Regions from separate parts of the Homo sapiens genome. Here regions 1, 3 and 4 are each linked to region 2. Evidence: fine-mapped expression QTL. A gene starts in region 2. Each other region holds a variant in brackets. All regions are shown on one strand. Distances are from middle to middle.

Region 1 (5,000 bases), 34 kb before region 2:
TCATCACAGACTCAATCTAGGCCCATCTCCCTTGGCCTCAGCGCCCTCAAGAGTGTCACAGGGTAAACAGGGCTGACATGAATAACTACTGAAGCACCCAAGTGATCTGTGGTCAGTCTCCAGGGCTGCACCAAATGAGAAGCTTGGACTAGGGGCCAGGCTCCAAAGCTGGAACAGTGATGGAGGGTGGGAGCCCAAGTAGCCTGAGGGACCCACGCTGGCCAGGTGCTCACCTGTACTGCCTGGCACGGTCCATGTACTCATGCTGCTCCATGCCCTGTGAGTCTGCAGCAGACACATCAATGATGTTGCTATGGGGAGAGGAGACAGAGATGACATGACAGGTGCTTCCGAGAAGGACAAACAGGACTCAGTGCCAGGTACCAACTCCAGGGCTATCTGACACCAGTTTCCCTCCTGCCTACTGGAGCAGGGCTGGACATGGAGGCACCTCTCCCCAGTGACCTTGTCCCATCCCCCATGTCCTGAGCCTGGCTCCTTCTATCCTAGCCTTTAATATGGATAGAGGAGCTCTGACCCAGGCCTGGTCCTCTGACACTTACCTGGCTGTCTTGGCAAGGATGGAAGAGAGCAGGGCCTGCTCATCAGTGCGAGCGGAAGGCAGGCTGTGGTAGTTGGGCTCGGCTCCATTGAGAGCTTTGGTAGGGGGGCTGCTAGGGTCCAGCAGCAGCTTCCGCTCCTCTCGGTCCTAGAAGTGGTCATGGGAGAGAAGTCAGCCCCAGGACCCGTAGATCCTGCCTTTCACGGGTGCTACCCTTAGCCCAGCTCTGACCTTAAACACCAAAAATGTTTCTATAAGGAATATCTAAAGTGCCCAGCTTTATGGAATGCCAGATAAGACTCAGTTCCTGCCTATCCTTGGGAGCTCAACTGAGTTGGTGTTCTAGGATAAATGAGAGTGGAACCAGGCAGTCCTAGAGGCCCTGAAAAAATGGACAGAGGCACAAAGCAGGTAGTCAGCAACAGCCCTGGAGCTTGAAAAACATTCTAGGACCTGGCAAAGAAAGGATACTAGAGGCTGGAAGACAGTGGAGCTGAGACATAGCAAGCACTGGGATCTAAAGGGGAAATCAGTGCAAGTCAAGAGCCCAAGAACAGCCTTCCTCATCCCCTAGGACCAGGCCTTCCCCAGCAAAGCTGTTCGCTTCCAAGATGGAAGCCCTGGCGAGTCCAGACAAAGCCCTAGGCCCCAAGAGAAAGCAAGCCCAACCTCTCCATGGCCATTTCTCAAATTATGTCAGGGCAGGAATCCCAGCCCAGCTCTGGGTCACACAGTACAAGTGTGTTCCCTTCTTGAAGGCAGGTCCCTTCGAAGGTGTTCACCCTCCTGTGCTCTGGTGCTCTTTTTGTACGTGACTCCCAGAACCAAACTGAGTGTACATGGTGTATCCTGATCTGAGCAGTACAGCTGTAGCCATGTATGGTGATTCACACCAGTAATCCCAACACTTTGGGAGCCCAAGGCAGAAGGATTGCTTGAGTCCAGGAGTTTGAGACCAGCCTGGGCAACAAAGCAAGACCTCGTCTTTGCAAAAAAAAAAAATTAGCTGGACTTGGTAGTGTGAGCCCTGCAGTCCCACCTACTTGGGAGGCTGAAGTGCAACGACTGTATGAACCCAGGGTTTGAGGCTGCAGTGAGCTAGGACTGTGCCACTGTACTCCAGTCTGGGCAAGAGAGCAAGACCCCATCTCAAAACAAACAACAATGGCGCTGTTCCCTCCCTTGCTAAACCACCTGAGTAGCCCATGTAAATTTTCAGCAGCCCTGTTCCTGCTGGCCTGTGCTGATAATCACAACCCCTGAACTAATGTAAGACCAAACCAAGCTTCCTCATTGGTTTGGTCTTCCTCCTTGTCCTCTTTCAGTCCCCTGTTCTATCTACTGTAATATTTCTGGATTTGACCCTGCCTTGAGACCATCAGCTGCAAATCCTTGCTTGCTGTATCAGCAGTAAATGAGAAAAACAGACCTGCTGGGTATCTATCCAACCCATAAAGAGCAAGAGTGCCCTGAACAAAGCCAAGGATGGGCCCAGGGGGACATCCTGGCTAATGCTGACTCACCAACCTTCAGTGCCAGACTCCTCAATGCTCCCCTCCAGGCCTATCTCAGTTCCTCAGTCTTTCCTGCTGCAGGCCGCAGCTCCCCTGCCCACAACTCCACAACTCTCCTTGTAGAGGGCTACTTCCTCCTGCCCTGCTTAGGGAGGCCCAGCCTTTTCACCTTACTCTTCTTTCTCAAGGCTAGGTTGCCCAAGTGTCCTCAGGCAATTTGATCCAGTTCCCAACAGCAAGAGACAGAAGCTGTGGGCTTTGCCCCATCACCTCTATAAACTCCCAGACACCCTTCCTCCCTAAATACATAGGCTCAGTATTAAAGAGCTAAAAAGACAAAATGTTTGCCAAAGATAAAACTATGTATTTCTAAGGAAAGCTGGCTCCATAATGAGGCCCAAGTTAGCTTCCTATGTGTCTGTCCTCCCAGCTCCACTTCAGACAGATCTTCCTGCAGGACAGGGTAGTCTCTTCCCTATCAGGGGTTCTTCAAGAAGAAGGTTGGCTGATCACTTCTCAGCCTTCAGCTAAGATCAAGTGAACAACAAGGTTATTTTCTTGAAACCCAGACTTAAAGAAGAGGCCATGCTACCTACTTCAGAGCAGACAAACATCACCCCACTCCCAAAGTGCGAGTGGAGCATGGGTTAGGTTTGTCACATCAAGGTTTGTCTCTGCATTAGTGTAACCCAAGAGGCAGGGTTTCACTGTCTACCTTAGCACAGACATAGCAGCCTGCCCGTGACTGGCCACCTGGTCTAGGGGCATGGCTGAGACAGCTTGGCCCCATGGATAAAGTACATGGCCTAGCGTCAGAACACCTGGGCACTAGCACTTCTCAGCTTGGCCAAATCACTTAGCTTCTCTGAACTTCTTCCTCACCTTTCAATAGACATAACCCACACTAATATGACGGATGTCT[G/A]GCAAGAGTCAAATTAGATAACTGTGAAGGCCCTTTGTAAACTGTAACGTGTTGTATATTTTTTATTATGATAAAGAGACAGAGATGAGAGTCGGAGAGGGGCCTGCCCAAGAACTCAAAGAGGGACTGTGGGATGGTGGATGGTTATGGCCCTTGCTACATGAGGCCTCAAATCACCCAGCAGTGATTAAGCACCTTCTCTGGGTGTTAGGAACAGAAATGAGAGCCCCCCAAGGAGAAGGTAGAGATTCAGGAGAGCAGCAGGCCCAGCTCTCCCTTCCAAGTAGAAGCTTGTATCCTTTCTCATACGGCATTAATCCTTCTTGACTCATTCCCTGCAAGAGTCCATATTATGCTTTAAGGGACAATTTCCCACTAGGCTACAGCTCTCCCAGTAGGCAGGGTTATTGTTGTCTCTTTCTCAAAAAGGTGGAAGTGAAGTGAGAGGTATTAGGCACAACACATGCCTAACACAGGGCAAAGGAAATATGTGTTCATTGGGTGTATGGAGAATTGAGAACCAGAAGCCACCCTTGCTTCCCATACAAACGACATTTTCCTAGGCTTAAGCCCTTAATCCAAAATACGTTCACTGAAGAACGAACTACTTCCCAAGTACCAGTGATATAATCTATTTTTGTGACCATCTTCCCCATTAGACCGTGAGCTACCTGAAACCTTTCTACTCTCTCAGGTCTACTATATGTTCAAATGTAGAATCCGGGCTTAGAGACGATCAAAAAAGGAGAGTAGACAGCAACTTGAGACTTCATCCTTGAATGTCAGGCCAGGCAGGGCAGGGATTAGAGTGTGGGGAGAAGTGAGAATGCACTAAGAGGAAGAGGGAGAATTTAAAACTGTACAGGTCTCCCCAGCCTAACCCTTTCTCCAAAGGTATCAGATCTACAGCCAAATTCTCAGAATAGGCATGTCTCCAGCTAAAGGAACCCTCAGGCCCCAGGCAGACTGCACTGAGGCAAGCCAAACTCAGAACCAAATGAACTTCCCGCTCCATTTCTCTTTTCCCACAATCTAGCCAAAGCTAAATCCTCTTTGTTGCTTCCCAGACAATTTCCCACATGTCCCGATGTCCTCACTGTATCGATTAAATCCTTCATTGGCCAATTCAAAGGCCACCAACTTCCAGAGTCGTCCCCTGGCCCTAGACTAGCAGCGACCTTCCTTCTGCAACCCCAGGGACTAAGACGATACACGAATTCCTGATTCATCTCAGGACAGACTAACTCAGGGCCTCAGCTTACCCACCCCTAAAATGGATTCGCAAAGCCCACTAATACACAGAAGACACAGGAAGCTGGGGAAGGGAGTGTTTCCCGGGGACCTAGACTGAGGATCCTTGAATCTGAAAAGTTTTGAAGGTAGGAGCAAACGGAAGTGGTGGGAGCGAGCCGGACAGGCGGCTGCCTGCACACCCCGAGGCGGGGACTGTGTAGAAATCTGGGGCTTTAACAGGGGTAGGAGCCCGGCTTGGCGTCTCCTCTGTAATCTGTCCCCTCCAGGCCTCCGTATTCAGTGAGCCCTGCAGTCCGGCTGCCCGTCCTCCGCAGGTTTCTTTCTGGGCCCCATGCCCCAGTGTCTTAGCCCTCATTCCCGAGCCCCGCCTGCCGCGGCCGCACCTGGTCCGAGTCCTCGTTCTCGCTGCTGTAGCAGCACCCCATGGCCGGGGTCGGGCCGGGCGCTCAGGCCGCGCCGAGGAGGGACGGCGTCCGTGAGGAGCCCTTCCGGTCACATGACCCGCGGCGGCCTCCCGCAGGCAACCACCCGCCCCCACCCCCCGTACCCCCTGTCCCGGAGCCGCTTGGCCGCCTCAGTCAATACCCCGGCTTCCGGTCCCGCCCGCTAGCGCGTGATCGTTGTCAACCAATGGGAAGGCGTAACCGTACACGCAAGCACGTGATGCGGGGAAAGGGCGGGGCGGATCACATGACTTCATCTTTCCAGTCTCTAAACTGGCAGTAGTGGCCATCGTGAATTGTGTTAT
Region 2 (5,199 bases):
TTCAAAACAAAAAGTTTAAAAATCAAATACACATAGTTGCTTGAAATAGTAACTATTTTATTATATTCCAAGATGTTGTGAGTCAGGAATTTGGCCAAAACTCAGGTGGGCGATTCTTCTGCAAAGACCCCCACAACACATTCAAAGTCACAGGCAGAGGTTGTTGGGGGAGGGCATTGAAAAGAAGAGAAGAGTCATAGGTGGGTGCAATGGAGGGAGGGCAGAGGGCTGCTGACTATGGTGCAGGACTCATCCATAATGGAGCCCTGGGGAGGCAAGGGCTTCATAACTAGACACTGGTCTTGTCACCTCAGACTCACCTGTAGCAGGACCAGATACTGAGGTCAGACTGAAAACACAGGCTCTGCCTCAGGAGAGGCTCTCTACTAGCTGAGTAAATGATGACAGTATTGGAAATGTTCCCAACATCATAATGGGAAAACATCACTTCACACTACATAAGCAATACACAGGGGCAGTGCCGGTCGTCTTCCCAGGTTAGTAGCAGTTCTACTGCCTCCAAGAGTGTTGGAGAAATACAAACCAAGCATTAGGCACTTTTAACTTGAAAACATGAAGTTCTCTTTCCTAACTTTCTTTGTTTCCTTATTTCTTCTTCTTCTTCTTCTCCTTCTTCTTCTTCTTCTTCTTCTTCTTCTTCTTCTTCTTCTTCTTCTTCCTCTTCTTCTTCTTCTTCTTCTTTCTTCTTCTTCTCCTTCTCCTTTTCCTTCTTCTTTTTTTGCTGAGACAGGGTCTCACTCTGACAGTACAGTGGTGCCATCACAGCTCACTGCAGCCTCGACCTCCAGGGCTCAAGCAATCCTCCCAGCTCACCCTCCCAAATGGCTGAAACTACAAGCTCGCACCACCATACGTGGCTAATTTTTCTATTTTTGTGTGCAGATGAAGTTTTCCTATGTTGCCCAAGTGGTCTCAAACTCCTGGGATCAAGTGATCCATCCACCTCAACCTCCCAAAACGCTGGGATTACAGGTGTAAGCCACCACACCCAGCCCACTAACTTTTTTATATCGGCTAATGAAATAGTTTTAAGTTTAGACCCTACGAGGCATAAAGAAATAATTTTAGTTATGTTATCAGATGTACAGTAATACTCAAGTGTGCAACTGTGGATAACTTGAGTTCATGAGGTTTTTGTTTTTTTGTCAAAAGAATAAATTTATAGTGAAACTACCCAAAAAAGCAAAGTACAGAACAGTATGCTACCATTTGTGCACAGAAATGGGATATATATGGTGTAACTGCATCGAATTTACTGGATGTATGTCCAGGGACCAGAACTCTTGGTGGCTTCATGTTCATACTTTTGCAAGCACATGTGTAGTATCCTTAACTTAAAGGTACTGTTGTATACATTCTAGTGTTATCAAAATTTACATACATATTATCAAGTCAGAGAGGTCATTCTGTGTCTTAGTATTTTCACTTCATATTTGGTATATTTATGTATGTATACACACATACCTATATGTATTTAAATAAGATTTATAGTCACATGGTCCAAAAATCAAAACAATGTGGAAAGGTTTACAGAGAAAAGTCTCAAGCCTAATCCTGTTCTCTACTGCCAGGTGACCATGTTATTAATTTCTTTTCATACCTTGCCACAGAATTTTCACCTGCAAACACAGATATTCTTTTCTTTTTTAATGACAGAGTCACGTTCTGTTATCCAGGCTGGAGTGCAGTGGCGTGATCTTGGCTCACTGCAAACTCCTCCCGGGTTCAAGTGATTCTCCTGTCTCAGCCTCCTGAGTAGCTGGGATTACAGGCATGTGCCACCACACCCAGCTAATTTTTGTATTTTTAGTACAGATGGGGTTTTATCATATTGACCAGGCTGATGTCGAACTCCTGACCTCAAGTGATCCGCCTGCCTCGGCCTCCCACAGTGCTGGGATTACAGGCGTGAGCCACCACGCCCAGTCAACACAGACATTCTTACTCCTTTTTTACAGAGAATTTATTATTATTATTTTTTACATAGCATTTTTCTGCACCTTTCTTTTTCCACTTAACAATGCACTTGAAGATTTTTCCATATTTGTACATCAGGAGCTTTCTCTTTCTTTGTTACCACATTAAATTCCACTGGGTAGATGTACCATAATTTAACTGGGTCCTTATTGAAAGACAATTGAGCTGTCTCCTAGACAAAGCCTTGTGCACCTTCCCGAACAGAGGGTCTAACCAAGCAGGCAGGATGGGGTTATAAAGTAGGTGGGGAGGTGGGAGAGACTCCACCTTCCCAGGTGGGCTGAGAATGGAGGTAAGGCCCTGCAACAGGACAGAGGGAAAAGTGGGGATGAGAGGTGGGAGGCGAGATAGCGCCCACTGTTCTCGCTCAGCCCCCTCCTCCGTTTGCCGCTGACCTGTTGGCCTCCCCCAACCTCTGAGCCTGCCTCTGCCTAGGTAATTTCCCAAGACCCAGAAGGGGTGAAGGGTGAGGTGTGATTGCCCCCACCTCCTTGCCTCCCGCAGCATCTGCTCCGGGACCATGAACAATAGCTGACAGCTCCATGGCCCTTGCTGTCCCCATCTCAGCTTCCCTGGGCATCTAAACCTCAGCTGCCATGGGGTAGGAGGACAGGCTGAGGAAGCAGAAGCCTGAGGCTGTCTAGAGTCTCACTCCTGCATCAGCAGGCCACCACCTGTGGTTCCTCCTTGTGCAAATTTGAAAAGAATTGCATAAAACACTGGAGAAATCCAAGAGGGGAAGTCCACAAGGGCGGTGGCTCCCTACAAGGTCACAGAGCAAGCTGGTGTCAGAGCCTGGACCTACAGCGCTGTTGGTGGAGGTCCTGCCTCCAGGTAGGGGAAGGGCTCCCTCTCACCTCTACACGCAGCGCATTTCTTGGCTCAGCTGCCCTGTAGGGGATGCAGGGTGGGGACAGCAGAGATCTGGGCCTGGGAGGGAGAGAGTACACAATCACATGGCTGTTGCCCCTGTCTCAGGCCTTGTCTACCTCTGACTGTGGCTCTCTGGCAGGAATAGATGGACATGGCCTGGCAGATGATGCAGCTGCTGCTTCTGGCTTTGGTGACTGCTGCGGGGAGTGCCCAGCCCAGGAGTGCGCGGGCCAGGACGGACCTGCTCAATGTCTGCATGAACGCCAAGCACCACAAGACACAGCCCAGCCCCGAGGACGAGCTGTATGGCCAGGTGAGGGCAGCCTGGTGTAGGACAGCATGCACACAGGTCAGAGGGTGATGGCACGAGCAATGGCAGGTCCAGTGTGGTCAGAACCAAGGGTGCCGCTGCTGACAAGGAAGGGGAGGGGCGGCCAGGGCCACCATGCCACAGGTAAGGCCACTGAGGCAGCTTGGGGAATATGAGCTCCAATTTGAACTCCAGGCTCAGGAGTGTGCTTGTATTTCATTCCTCTGGTCTCCTGGCCTGCTCCCTACAAGGTTTCACATTCCCAGAGGGCTGGGGATGTGCCTAGGGAGAGACTGTGGCGTGGACACAATCTGTGGGTTAAAGCGAAGACAGGACAGCCTGGAAGCCCCATGACATCTGAGTCACTCCCAACATTCCATTTGCTTATTTTTAAATCGGGGTTAAAAAAAAAAAACAAATACATAACATACATTTTCCACTTTAGCCATTTTTAACTGTACGGTTCAGTGGCATTAGGTATGCTCATGTGGTTGTGCAACCATCACCACCATCCATCTCCTGACCTCTTTCATTCTCCAAAACTGAAATGGAAACTCTGTGCCCACCACTTCATTTGCTTTTCAGAACCTTCTAGAGCACATCCTCCTTGCCAGGAAATGGTGTGGATGTAGACCTTTGAGAGAGACAGATGACTATCATTCTCAGGGCCATGAGCTATATGAGAGTGATGATATTTGTTGAGCCCTTACTATAGCAAGGGAGTTCTTCTCATTGTACTCAGTAACTCTTTTGGAGGCAACAACCCTTGACCCTGACAGGCAGGACCCATGTCTGCCAAACCCTAAGACCCATGATGTGCAAGGGGTCTTGCAGGAAGACCAAGAGTTGGAACATCCAAGGAAAAGCAAGTGTGAAGTCGGGCTGGCAGGGAAGCATGTTCTGTGTCAGCCGGCACTGGGCGTGGGCCAGGGTGTGGGAGGTGGGTAGGTCTGGCTCCCCTCCCATGGATTTCCCTATTGTTTCTCCTGGGTGCTCAGGCCTGTCACGCCTCTGCCATCACTTGACCCTAGGTGCAAGGGTTCAGCCCAGAAATTTTATGCAATTGATTCATGATTTCTCAGGTTTTCTGAGTCCTGGCCTAGAGTGACTTCCCAAGAAAAAACTCCACCATTTCTGCTTGTCTTACCTGCCTTGTATTTACCTTTCTAGGATTGCCTTTTCCACATTTAGTCAAGTCTAGGTTCAGACCCACGTGCAGGCTATAGCTCCTTCGTTCTCCACCACTCTCAGGATCTATCTAGAGTCTCCCCACCTGGACCTCCAGACCCTGGGAGAGCCAGACCAGCCCCTTGACCTCCACCCTCCCCCACAACCTGGGCCAGGTTCCTCTCCTCCCTGTCCTCAGTTATAATTTTTTTTTTTTTTAATTTGAGGCAGAGTTTCGCTCTTGTTGCCCAGGCTGGAATGCAATGGCATGATCTTGGCTCACTGCAACCTCTGCCTCCTGGGTTCAAGTGATTCTCCTGCCTCTGCCTCCTGAGTAGCTGGGATTACAGGCGCCTACCACTGTGCCTGGCTAATTTTTTGGTATTTTTAGTAGAGACAGGGTTTCTCTGTGTTGGTCAGGCTGGTCTCGAACTTCTAACCTCAGGTGATCCGCCCGCCTCCTTAAATCTTAACCTCACTGTTTACCATGGGTGTAGCTTACTTAAACTCTGTAAAAATGGGGGTAAGGATTCGTACTGGGTTGTTGAGAGGATAAAGCGCAAAAGCCTCAGGGACTTTGCACCTATGGTTTTCTATGCCTAGAGTGTTCTTTGTCTCCCTTCTACACACAGCCCACCCACCCACTAAAACCATACCCTCCCTGAGGGTAGAGGTGTTATTTGTTTTCTTCACTGTGGTGTTCCTAGGACCTAGCACAGTGCCTGATGTATAATCAGCACTCAGTTAATATTGGCTGGATGCAAAATGAATAATATAAATAAGCTGAATAACATGAAATAGGCCGAACGCGGTGACTCACGCCTGTAATCCCAACACTTTGGGAGGCCAAG
Region 3 (5,199 bases), 26 kb after region 2:
GCAGGAAAGGAGGGATTTGGAAGTGAAGGTGTGTGGGTGTGGAACAGGTGTGTGACATTTTGGGGTTGTAGGGCTGGCAGAATCAGAGACCCTTTGGGGCCCAGTGGCTAAAGGTCTTCCCTCTTCCCTACAGGGTCTAACAAGTGCCAGGTGGCAGCTGCCTGACTACCTTTCCATCTCTACTTTCTCACACCCACTGCTCTGTGCAGTGAAATCTGGACTCACTCCTACAGGGTCAGCAACTACAACCGAGGGAGCAGCCGCTGCATCCAGATGTGGTTCGACCTGGCCCAGGGCAACCCCAATGAGGAGGTGGCAAGGTTCTATGCTGCAGCTCTGAGTGGGGCTGGGCCCTGGGCAGCCTGGCCTCTCCTGCTCAACCTGGCCCTAATGCTGCTGTGGCTGCTCAGCTGACCTCCTTTTACCTTCTGATACTTGGACATCCCTGCCCTGTTTAGCCCCACAGCTCCCAACTATTTGGTTCCTCTTCTATGGTCTTGTCTCTGACAGCCACTTTGAATAAACCAGACACCACACATGTATCTTGAGAATTATTTGGGTATGAATGGGAATGTGGCTGTTTTGTTTCCCATTTCTTATTGATTGAAGCCAGTTAGACTGGGCTAGTTCCCAGCTCTGATGCTTGCTATGAACTAGCCTGATACTTAAGTATTCTTCTAAGGTAGGAGACATTTGTAGCTCTCGATTTTATTATTCACTATAGCTCCAATTTAGAGCCAAGCCCAGGCATTTTTCTTTTTTTGAGACAGGGTCTCACTCTCTCACCCAGGTTGGAATGGAGTGGCATGATCTCAGCTCACTGCAACGTCTGCCTCGTGGGCTCAAGTGATCCTCCCACCTCAGCATCCCAAATACTTGGGACTACAAGCATGTGCCACCACACCTGGCTAATTTTTCAATTTTTTGTAGAGAGGAAATCTTGCAATGTTGTCCAGGCTGGTCTCAAACTACTGGGCTCAAGCAATCCTCCTACCTCAGCCTCCTGAGTAGCTGGGTCTACAGGTGTGAGCCTCCACATTCAGCTAATACATATAATATAAAACATGTATTATATATGTAATAGTAGAGACAGGGTCTCACTATTTTACCCAGGTTGTTCTCAAACTCCTGCGCTGGAGTGATCCTCCCAAAATGCTGGGATTACAGGCATGAGTCACTGCATCTGGCCACAAGTCATGTTTATTTCTTGCTCAAGCTACAATGCTGAATGTGGGTTATCAGGGGGATTCTGTTTATTTCTCATTCCTGGACTACATTAGCAGCCAGGGGGTTCTGCTTCTCACTCAAGAACCCACGCTGATGGAGGCTCCATCTTCCATGAGACAGGAAGAGGGAACTTGGCAAATTCCATAAGGCTCTTCAAATTTCCACCCATCACTTATTTCATTGGCCAAATCAAGTCATGAGCATGCCTAAATTCAAGAAAGCCAGGAAAACATAATCCTATCATGTACTTGCAAGGAGAGGGGAATCACAAGGTTTGCAACAGACCTAATCATGAGTAAAAAGACTTCATTATTTTCTCGTAGATTTCTGTTTCTGGCATGGTCATAGTTACAAATTTAATTTTTTGGTTAGATCCTAGTAAGAAGGAGGACCAACTCTCTATACATATGCAAATAACTACATCAACCTGAAAAGTGGAGCAATCCACTGATGACCGCCCTGGCTAGTCTTGTAAACAAGGCCAATTGATGCCTTTTCGCCCTTCATTTATTTCTATTTATTATTTTTATTTTTTGAGACAGGGTCTCTTTCTGTTGCTCAGGCTGGAGTGCAGTGGCACAGTCATGGCTCACTGCAGTCTTGACCTCCTGAGCTCAATTGATCCCTCAACTTTAGCCTCCCAAGTAGCTGGGACTACAGGCACATGCCACCATGCTGGGCAAATGTTTTGTATTTTTTTTGTAGAGATGGGGTTTTGCCATGTTGCCCAAGCTGGTCTTGAACTGCTGCGCCCAAGTGATTCATTCACCCACCTTGACCTCCTAAAGTGCTGGGATTAGAGGCGTGAGACACCTCTGCCAGCCCACTGATTTCTTTTTTGAACCGAAAGCATAGTTGATCAATGCAAAAGCTAATAATTGGATATTAACAAAATTCAAAACTCTTGCACTTTAAAAGACACCCTTAAGAAAATTAAAAAACAAGCAACAGACTGGAAGGAAATATTTGCAAACACATCTGATAAAGGATCTGTATCCATAAAATACAAAGAACACTTACAACTCAGTAACAAGAAGGCAGACAACCCAATCAAATAATGGGCAAAAGAAATGAACAAATATGTCATTAAAGAAGGTACACAAATTATGAATAGTTACACGAAAAGATGCTCAACATTATTAATCATTAGAAAAATGGAAACTAAAACCATAGTGATAGACGGTTTTATACCTACTAGAATGGCAATAATAATAATGATAGGCAATAACAAGCATTGGCAAGGATGTGGAGAAATGGGAACCCTCACACAGTGCTGGTGGGGATGTAAAATGGTACAGCCCTTCGGAAAACAGTGTGGCAGTTTCTCAAAAAGTTAAATGTAAAACTGCCATACAACCCAAAATTCCACTCCCAGGTGTCTACTCAGGAGAAACGAAAACAAACATAACAAAACTTAAATATGAATATTAATAATAATCATATTTATGTATGTAAATATGATGTATCATTTATGTATGTAAATATGATATATCATATTATGTATCATTATATATAATAGCCCCAAGCTGGCAATAACCTAAATTTTTAGCAGCTGGTGAGTAGATAGACAAAATGTGGTGAATCCATACAATAGAAGACTGTGCAGCAATGAAACGTGATGACACATGCTATGTCGTGGATGAGCGTCAAAAACATTATGTTAAGTGAAAGAAGCCAGACCTAAGAGGCTTCATGTGGCATGATTTCACTTACATGAAATGTGCAGGGAAGGCAAATTTATAGAGGCAGAAAGTAGATTAGTAGTTGCCTGGGGCTGGAAGTGACAACAGGGATTAATTGTAAATGGGCATGAGGGGGGATAAGAATTGAGGGGATGATTCTGAGTTTCTGTGG[G/A]GTGTATCCATGAGGGAAAGTATTCTAAGGAAATTGGCATGTGGCTCCATAAAAATCTATCATCTGAGACAAACTCCATTCCCATCATGAACTTTAAAATATTGGTTGGAAGCCAAGCATGGTGGCTCATACCTGTAATTCCAGCACTTTGGGAGGCCAAGGCAGGTAGATCACTTGAGCCAGGGATTCTAGAACAGCTTGGGCAACATGGTGAAACCCCGTCTCTACATAAAAATACAAAAAATTTAGCCCAGTGTGGTGGTCCACGCCTGTAGTCCTAGCTATGCAGGAAGCTGAGATGGGAGGATCTCTTTAGCTCAGGAGGTAGAGGCTGCAGTGGGCTATGACTGTGCCACTGCAGTCCAGCCTGGGTTGATAGAGTGAGACCCTGTCTCAAAAAAAAAAAAAAAAAAAAATAGGAATTGCTGGATGGTAATGTTGTAGGAGTTTCTCCTCAGTTCAGCCAAAGACAGGGTCCTTGTCACCTGGCCATGAAATATTAGGCTTGCAGACACTTTGAAGGGTGAGAAAAATGGAATTTATTGGGCAAAAAAAAAAAGCGGGGAAACGGGGACCCTCGGCAGAGTGAGAGTCCTGCTAGTACACGCTTCCCACCTCTCAGGTTGAATCCCAGGTTCCACCCTGGAAGAGGAGGGGCCAGGCTCCTCAGCACGAACTTCCAGAGGCTCCACCCCAGTGCACATTCCTCCCAGTGTGCGGGTTTGTCAGAGGTTCTCTGGGGACCCCTTTACACTTGGCTGTCTCATTCCCCCCTCTCAAGAAGTACATCAAACTACTGTTAGAACAAGGATAGGGGTGAGGACGAAGACCGATCTAAACTGCTTCCTGCTAACAGGGAGCGGTGTTTTGGGAAACGGCAGTCAGAGCTCCCTCAGAAGCCTATCTAAGGGTTCCCGGCAGAAGGCGCCATCTTCCGAGGCTCCGGTTGCACGACCATTTGGAGTTTGATGGCCTGAAGGCAAGAGGAGAAAAACCAGGTTATTAGAAAACATGTGTTAAAACGAAACAAGGGAGGGTAAGGACAGCTTAAAATCCCTAGGCCTTTTACCAGTTTGCACAGGGAGAGGGAAACCAAAAGCCCGACTGGTAAAAAAAACTTTACCCTTTTGCCAGCATGTCATGCTTGTGGGTTCCCTTCCTCTGAGCCCAATCCTAAGCCAACCAGCTGAAGGTTTGGGAAATTAACTCTTTCCAGTTTGGAGGATGCATCTGAGGGGAGTGTCCTATAGTACAAAGACACAATTACCTATTAGTGAAGAGAAGACAGTGGAGAAGAAAGGAAAAAAAGGTGCTTTTTAAAGGAGTCCCAGGGGTTCAGCATGCATTCAAAAGGGGTACAGAGTGAAGATGAATGGCTACCCATCTAGAAAGAGGGGAGCAGGCATCCCTGTCTCCTATCTCTTTCTAGCAGATACCAGGGGTACATGAGGGAGAGAAGGAAGAGCGTCCTCTTTCCCTCTTCTGTCCTTGCATACCCAAGTCCTGGTGACCTTGGCAGGTGCTGCCATGGGTGCCACAGCAGCTTGCACCCATGAAGCAGGGAGTACCTAGAGAATAGGAATTATCAGCCAGACTCAGTGGCTCACGCCTGTACAACCCAGCACCTTGGGAGGCCGAGGTGGGCAGATCATGATTTCAGGAGTTTGAGACCAGCCTGGCCAACATGGTGAAACCCCGTCTCTACTAAAAATACAAAACTTAGCTGGGTGTGGTGGTGCATGCCTGTAGTCCCAGCTACTCGGGAGGCTGAGGCAGGAGAATCACTTGGTCCCAGGAGGCAAAGGTTGCAGTGAGCCAAGATCACACCACTGCACTCCAGCCTGGGCAACAGAGTAAGACTCCATCTCGGGGAAAAAAAAAGAGAGAATAGGAATTATCCGCTCTTACCTATGTTTCTATACCCCCTACAGTCAGTAGTCTTGGAGTTTCCTAGACCTCATTTATGCTGTGGGGAAAAGCAAGAGAGATCAGATTGTTACTCTGTCTGTGTAGAAAGAAGTAGACATAGGAGACTCCATTTTGTTATGTACTAAGAAAAATTCTTCTGCCTTGAGATTCTGTTAATCTATAACCTTACCCCCAACCCTGTGCTCTCTG
Region 4 (5,199 bases), 370 kb after region 2:
CTCTCAAATCTGAGTGTAGGTTGTTCAAAGCAGCCAGGCCACATCTTGAACACTTTGCTGCTTAGAAATTTCTTCTGCCAAATACCCTAAATCAAGTTTGTCCAACCTGCAGCCTGCTGGCCGCATGTGACCCAGAATGACTTTGAGTGAAGCCCAATACAAATTCATAAACTTTCTTAAAACATTGTGAGTTTTTTGTGATTTTTTTTTTCTAGCTCATCAGCTATCGTTAGTGTTAGTGTATTTTATGTATGGTCCAAGAACAATTCTTCTTCCACTGTGGCCCAGGGAAGCCAAAAGATTGGATACCCTTGCCCTAAATCATCACTCTTTAGTTTAAACTTCCACAGATCCTTAGGACATGGACAAAATGGAGACAAGTTTTTTGCTAAGGCATAACACACATGACCTTTGCTCCAGTTCCCAATACGTTTCTCATTTCCATCTGAGACCTCATAAGCCTGGACTTCATCATCCATATTACTATTGTTGTAAGACTTTTCCTTAATTGAGTGAAAGATGGGGTCCTTGTCCATCCCACAGCCACAAAAATTTAGGCTCGTAGATGATTTGAAGGGTGAGTGAAGCAGGGTTTTACTGGGTTAAAAGGAAGAAAAGGGGGAAACAGGGACTCTCACTAGGCCAGAGTCCCTCCACTAGAGTGCTTCCTGCCCGGGTGATTGAATCCCAGGTTCCACACAGGAAGAGGAGGCACCAGGCTCCTCCCTGCTGCAAAGGTCATGAACTTCCTGAGGCTCCACCTCAGTGGGCAGGCTGGTTGGAGTTTCTCCAGGGACTCCCTCCCACCTGGCTGTCTCACTATCAGCATTTTGGTCACAATCATTTAACCAGTCTCTAAGAAGTTCTGGACTTCCCTTGGTCTTCCTCTCTTTTTCTGAGCCCTCCAAACTCTTCCAACCTCTGCCTGTTACCCATTTCCAAAGCTGCTTCCATGTTTTCAGGTATCTTTATAGCAAGGCCTCACTCCTCAGTAACAATTTTCTGTATTAGGCCATTCTTGCATTGCTATAAAGAAATACCTGAGACTGGGTCACTTATAAAGAAAAGAGGTTTCATTGGCTCATAGTTCTGCAGGTTTTACAGAAAGGATGGTGCTGGTATCTGCTTGGCTCTGTTGAACTGTTGAGGAGCATTCAATCACGGTGGAAGGTGAAAGGGGAACAGGCAGGTCACATGGTGAAAGCAGGAACAAGTGAGAGTGTAGGGGGAGGTCCACTTTTAAATGGCCAGATCTTGGCAAGAACTCACTATTGCAAAGACACCACCAAGCCGTGAGGGATCCACCCCCATGACCAAAACCCCTCCCACCAGGCCCCACTTACAGCATTGGGGATTACAATTCAACATGAGATTTGGGCAGGGACAAATATCCAAACTACATTAGCTGGATATGAAATTCTTGGTTGGAATTTCTTTTCTTTAAGAATGCTGAATAGGCCGGGCACGATGGCTCATGCCTGTAATCCCAGCACTTTGGGAGGCCGAGGTGGGCAGATCATGACGTCAGGAGATCGAGACCATCCTGGCTAGCATGGTGAAATCCGTCTCCACTAAAAATACAAAAAATTAGCCGGGTGTGGTGGCAGGCGCCTGTAGTCCCAGCTACTTGGGAGGCTGAGGCAGGAGAATGGTGTGAACCCAGCAGGCAGAGCTTGCAGTGAGCCGAGATTACACCACTGCACTCCAGCCTGGGCAACAATGCAAGACTCCATCTCAAAAAATAAATAAATATATAAAAGAATGCTGAATATAGGCCACCAATCTCTTCTGGCTTGTAGAGTTTCTACTGACAGGTTCACTGTTAGCCTGATGAGGTTCCCTTTGTTGATGACCTGCCCTTTCTCTCTAGCTGCCTTAAACATTTTTTCTTTCATTTCAACTTTGGAGAATCTGATGACTATGTGTCTTAGGGATGGTCATCTTATACAGTACCTCACAGGGGTTCTCTGCATTTCCTGAATTTGACTGTTGGCCTCTGTAGCGAGGTTGGAAAGATTTTCAAGAATGATATCTTCAGATATGTTTTCCAAGTTGTTTGCTTTTTCTCCCTCTCTTTCAGGGATGCCAATGAGTCATAGATTTGGTCTCTTTACATAATACCATCTTTCTCAGAGATTTTGTTCATTCTTTTTTATTTCTTCACTTTTGTCTGACTGAGTTACATTGGAGGACTGGCCTTCAAGCTCTGAGATTCTTTCCTCAGCTTGGTTTATTCTGCTATCAATATTTGTAATTATGAAATTCTTGAAGTAAGGTTTTCAGCTCAATCATATCAGTTTGATTCTTTCTTCAAATGGCCATTTCATCTTTCAGTTCCTGTGTTGTTTTATTATATTCCTTAGATTCCTTGGATTGGGTTCTGACTTTCTCCTGAATCTCAATGATCTTCATTCCTATCCATGTTCTGAATTCTGTATCTGTCATTTCAGCCTAATTAAGAACCATTCCTGGGGAAGTAGTGCCATTATTTGGAGGTAAGAGGACATTTTGGCTTTTTGACTTGCCAGAGTTCTTGCACTGGTTCTTTCTCGTTTATGTGGGCTGATATTCCTTCAATCTTTGAAGTTGCTGTCCTTTGGATAGAATTTTTTGTTTTTATCTTCTTTGATCCCCTTGGGGGTTTGATTGTGGTATAAAGTGGGTTTAGTTGACTGGCTTCATTTCTGAAAGATTTTCGGAGGCCCAGTCTCAGCTCAGTAGTCCTGGGAAGCATGCTCTGGGAGGCTGGTACTGGGCTCTTGGCTTTATTCTCTGGCCTCTTGAGGTTAGGAACCTGCTGTACTGAAGGGGCCACAGTGCTCCTGATCCACTGGCCACAACACTCCAATGAGTGGTGCCAGCTAAAGAACTTTGTTGGGGCAGTGGCAGCGGGATCCATGCTCCCCTGCATGTGCCAGTAACTGTGGCAGTGTGGTGGGGGTACACGTGCATTGTCTGAGGCAGGGCATTAGCTGGAGCAGGGTGGCAGTGTTCCTGCATGTGCTTACACCAGTAGTGGGTGCAGCATGGTGGGGATGGGACACTGGTAGGGGTGGGATTGCTGGTGTCTGTGTGTGCATTTGTGCCAGCAGTGGTGGTACAGCAGGGTGCCCATGTGTTAGTGGAGGGAGGGGTGGTAGG[G/C]TGCACTAGTGTTGGCAGTGGTGACATGGTGGGGTGCATGCGCACATTCACTGACAGTGGAGTGGGGTGAGGTCCACCTATGCATGCCTGCTGGCAAAGTGGTGGAGCAGGGGCTGTAGACAAATGTGTGCTGGCAAAGTGGCAGGGGGAGTCAATGGTGGAGGGAGACTGTGTGTGGACTGATGTGCATTGGCAGGGGCCCATCTGCTGGAGCTCTCCAACAGCGAGGTGTGGTCTGACAATGAAGAAGTTATGATGAGGTTCCCTGGATATAGCAGTTGGGCATCCAAAGTTGTGCTGCAAGTGAGAATGGGCAGGCTGGGTCCCCAGGCGACGCCAGCAGACAGAGGGGTGCTCAGATAAAATTGGCCCTGTCCCACAGGCAAGACTGCCCTGCTCTGTCCAGTTCTGACAGTCACCCTAAGGCTAAAGTCTCCTGAAGGAGCATGGTGAGCCTTGGGGGATGAGAATCCCTGGCCATGCTCCACTGCAAATGTTCCCACATCAAACACTGTTGGCTCCACACAGGCTGGAGTCCTGCCCTAACTGCCTCTCTAAGTAGCTCTTGCTGCCAGCTTAAGTGTCCATGGGGGTCATGGGGTCTCCTGCTGCTAGGATTCTGGAGGTCTGTGGCAAGAATGGGCCACTCCTCAACTGTTCAATTCATCTCTTCTCCAGGAGTCACTCAGGAATGAGTCCCAGTGCACAACAGCCCCATACAGGGTTCCCAGCATCATCCCCCTTCAGCTCAGTGTCTGAGTCCTACTTCCATCCATTCTCAAAGCCTTCCCTCTGAAGATCTGCTTGGAGTGTGCCATTCTTCCTGATGTCCCAGTCTCTTGGTTGGGAGATCTTCTCCTGGCTGTGTTTAGTCAGCCATCTTGGCTCCAAACTCTCCATTGTTTCTGATGAGAAATCAGCTGCTTATCTTAATCTGGTTCACTCATATGTGATGAGTCATTTTGCTCTTGTTGCTTTCAAGACATTCTTTTTGCCTTTCAATAGTTTGACTATGGTATTTTTAGTTGACAGTCTCTTTGTGTTTATCCTACTTAGAATTCTCTGACCTTATTGGATGTGTAGATTAATGTTTTTCATCAAATTTGGACTTTTTTTTAGTATTGATTTCTTCAAATATTTTTTCTGATCTTTTCTCTCTCTTTCTCCTTCTGGGACTCCTATTATACATTTGTTGGTATGTTTTATGTGTCCATAAAACATACAAGTCTTTGAGGCAATGTTCATTTTTCTTCATTGTTTTTCCTTTCTGTTCTTCCATTTGGATGATCTCTATAGACCTGTTTTTAAGTTCACTTACCTTTTCTTCTGCTAGCACAAATATACTGTTCAATCCCTCTAGAGAAATTTTTATTTCAGCTATTATATTTTTCACCTCCAGAATTTCTAGCTGTTTTTTTTTTTTTTTTTTTTTAGACAGAGTCTCACTCTGTCACCCAGGCTGGAGTGCAGTAGCACAATCTCGGCTCACTACAAGCTACAAGCTCCGCCTCCTGGGTTCACGCCATTCTCCTGCCTCAGCCTCCTGAGTAGCTGGGACTACAGGTGCCCGCCACCATGTCCAGCTAATTTTTTTTTGTATTTTTAGTAGAGATGAGGTTTCACCGGGTTAGCCAGGATGGTCTCTCTCTCTCCTGACCTCTTGATCTGCCTGCCTCAGCCTCCCAAAGTGCTGGGATTACAGGCATGAGCCACCACGCCTGGCCTCTAGTTGGTTTTTTAAAATAACTTTATCTTTTTGTTGAATTCTATAACTGAGACGTTGTTCTCATGCTTTACTTCTTTAAACAAGGTTTCTTTAGTTCTTTAAACATATTTATAGCAGTTGCTTTCAAATTTTTGTCTGCTAAGTTCAACATCTGTATGCTCTCACAGATAGTTTCTGCTGTCTGCTTTTCCCTCGTGTGTGGTCATATCTTCCTGTTTCTCTTTGTATCTTATGATTTTATTTTATTTTATTTTATTTTTGACAGAGTCTCACTCTGTTGCCCAGGCTGGAGTGCAGTGGTGCAATATCGGCTCACTGCAAGTTCCGCCTCC

What was found. PIP is the estimated chance that this variant, and not a neighbour inherited with it, causes the effect.
Region 1: its variant is fine-mapped to the expression of FOLR3 in whole blood (INTERVAL, PIP 0.94).
Region 3: its variant is fine-mapped to the expression of FOLR3 in whole blood (INTERVAL, PIP above 0.99).
Region 4: its variant is fine-mapped to the expression of FOLR3 in whole blood (INTERVAL, PIP 0.95).

The regions. Positions count from the first base shown.
Region 1 is chr11:72,098,548-72,103,547 of GRCh38, forward strand. The region is part of intron 5 of LRTOMT (leucine rich transmembrane and O-methyltransferase domain containing); the gene reads left to right. It overlaps LAMTOR1 (late endosomal/lysosomal adaptor, MAPK and MTOR activator 1), which reads right to left and starts at 4,750. Exons shown (of 5, transcript NM_017907.3): 1 at 4,636-4,750; 2 at 564-709; 3 at 234-311. The coding sequence starts at 4,677. RefSeq lists an enhancer at 4,456-4,535 and a silencer at 4,636-4,905. The variant G/A (reference allele first, on the strand shown) is at 2,999.
Region 2 is chr11:72,132,937-72,138,135 of GRCh38, forward strand. It overlaps FOLR3 (folate receptor gamma), which reads left to right and starts at 2,789. Exons shown (of 5, transcript NM_000804.4): 1 at 2,789-2,832; 2 at 3,011-3,184. The coding sequence starts at 3,017.
Region 3 is chr11:72,159,326-72,164,524 of GRCh38, forward strand. It overlaps FOLR1-AS1 (FOLR1 antisense RNA 1), which reads right to left. Exons shown (of 3, transcript NR_199595.1): 3 at 3,997-4,054. It also overlaps the pseudogene FOLR1P1. Among named protein-coding and RNA genes, the nearest start is that of FOLR3, 26 kb to the left of the region's middle. The variant G/A (reference allele first, on the strand shown) is at 3,082.
Region 4 is chr11:72,507,499-72,512,697 of GRCh38, forward strand. No RefSeq gene overlaps it. Among named protein-coding and RNA genes, the nearest start is that of LINC01537, 61 kb to the right of the region's middle. The variant G/C (reference allele first, on the strand shown) is at 3,142.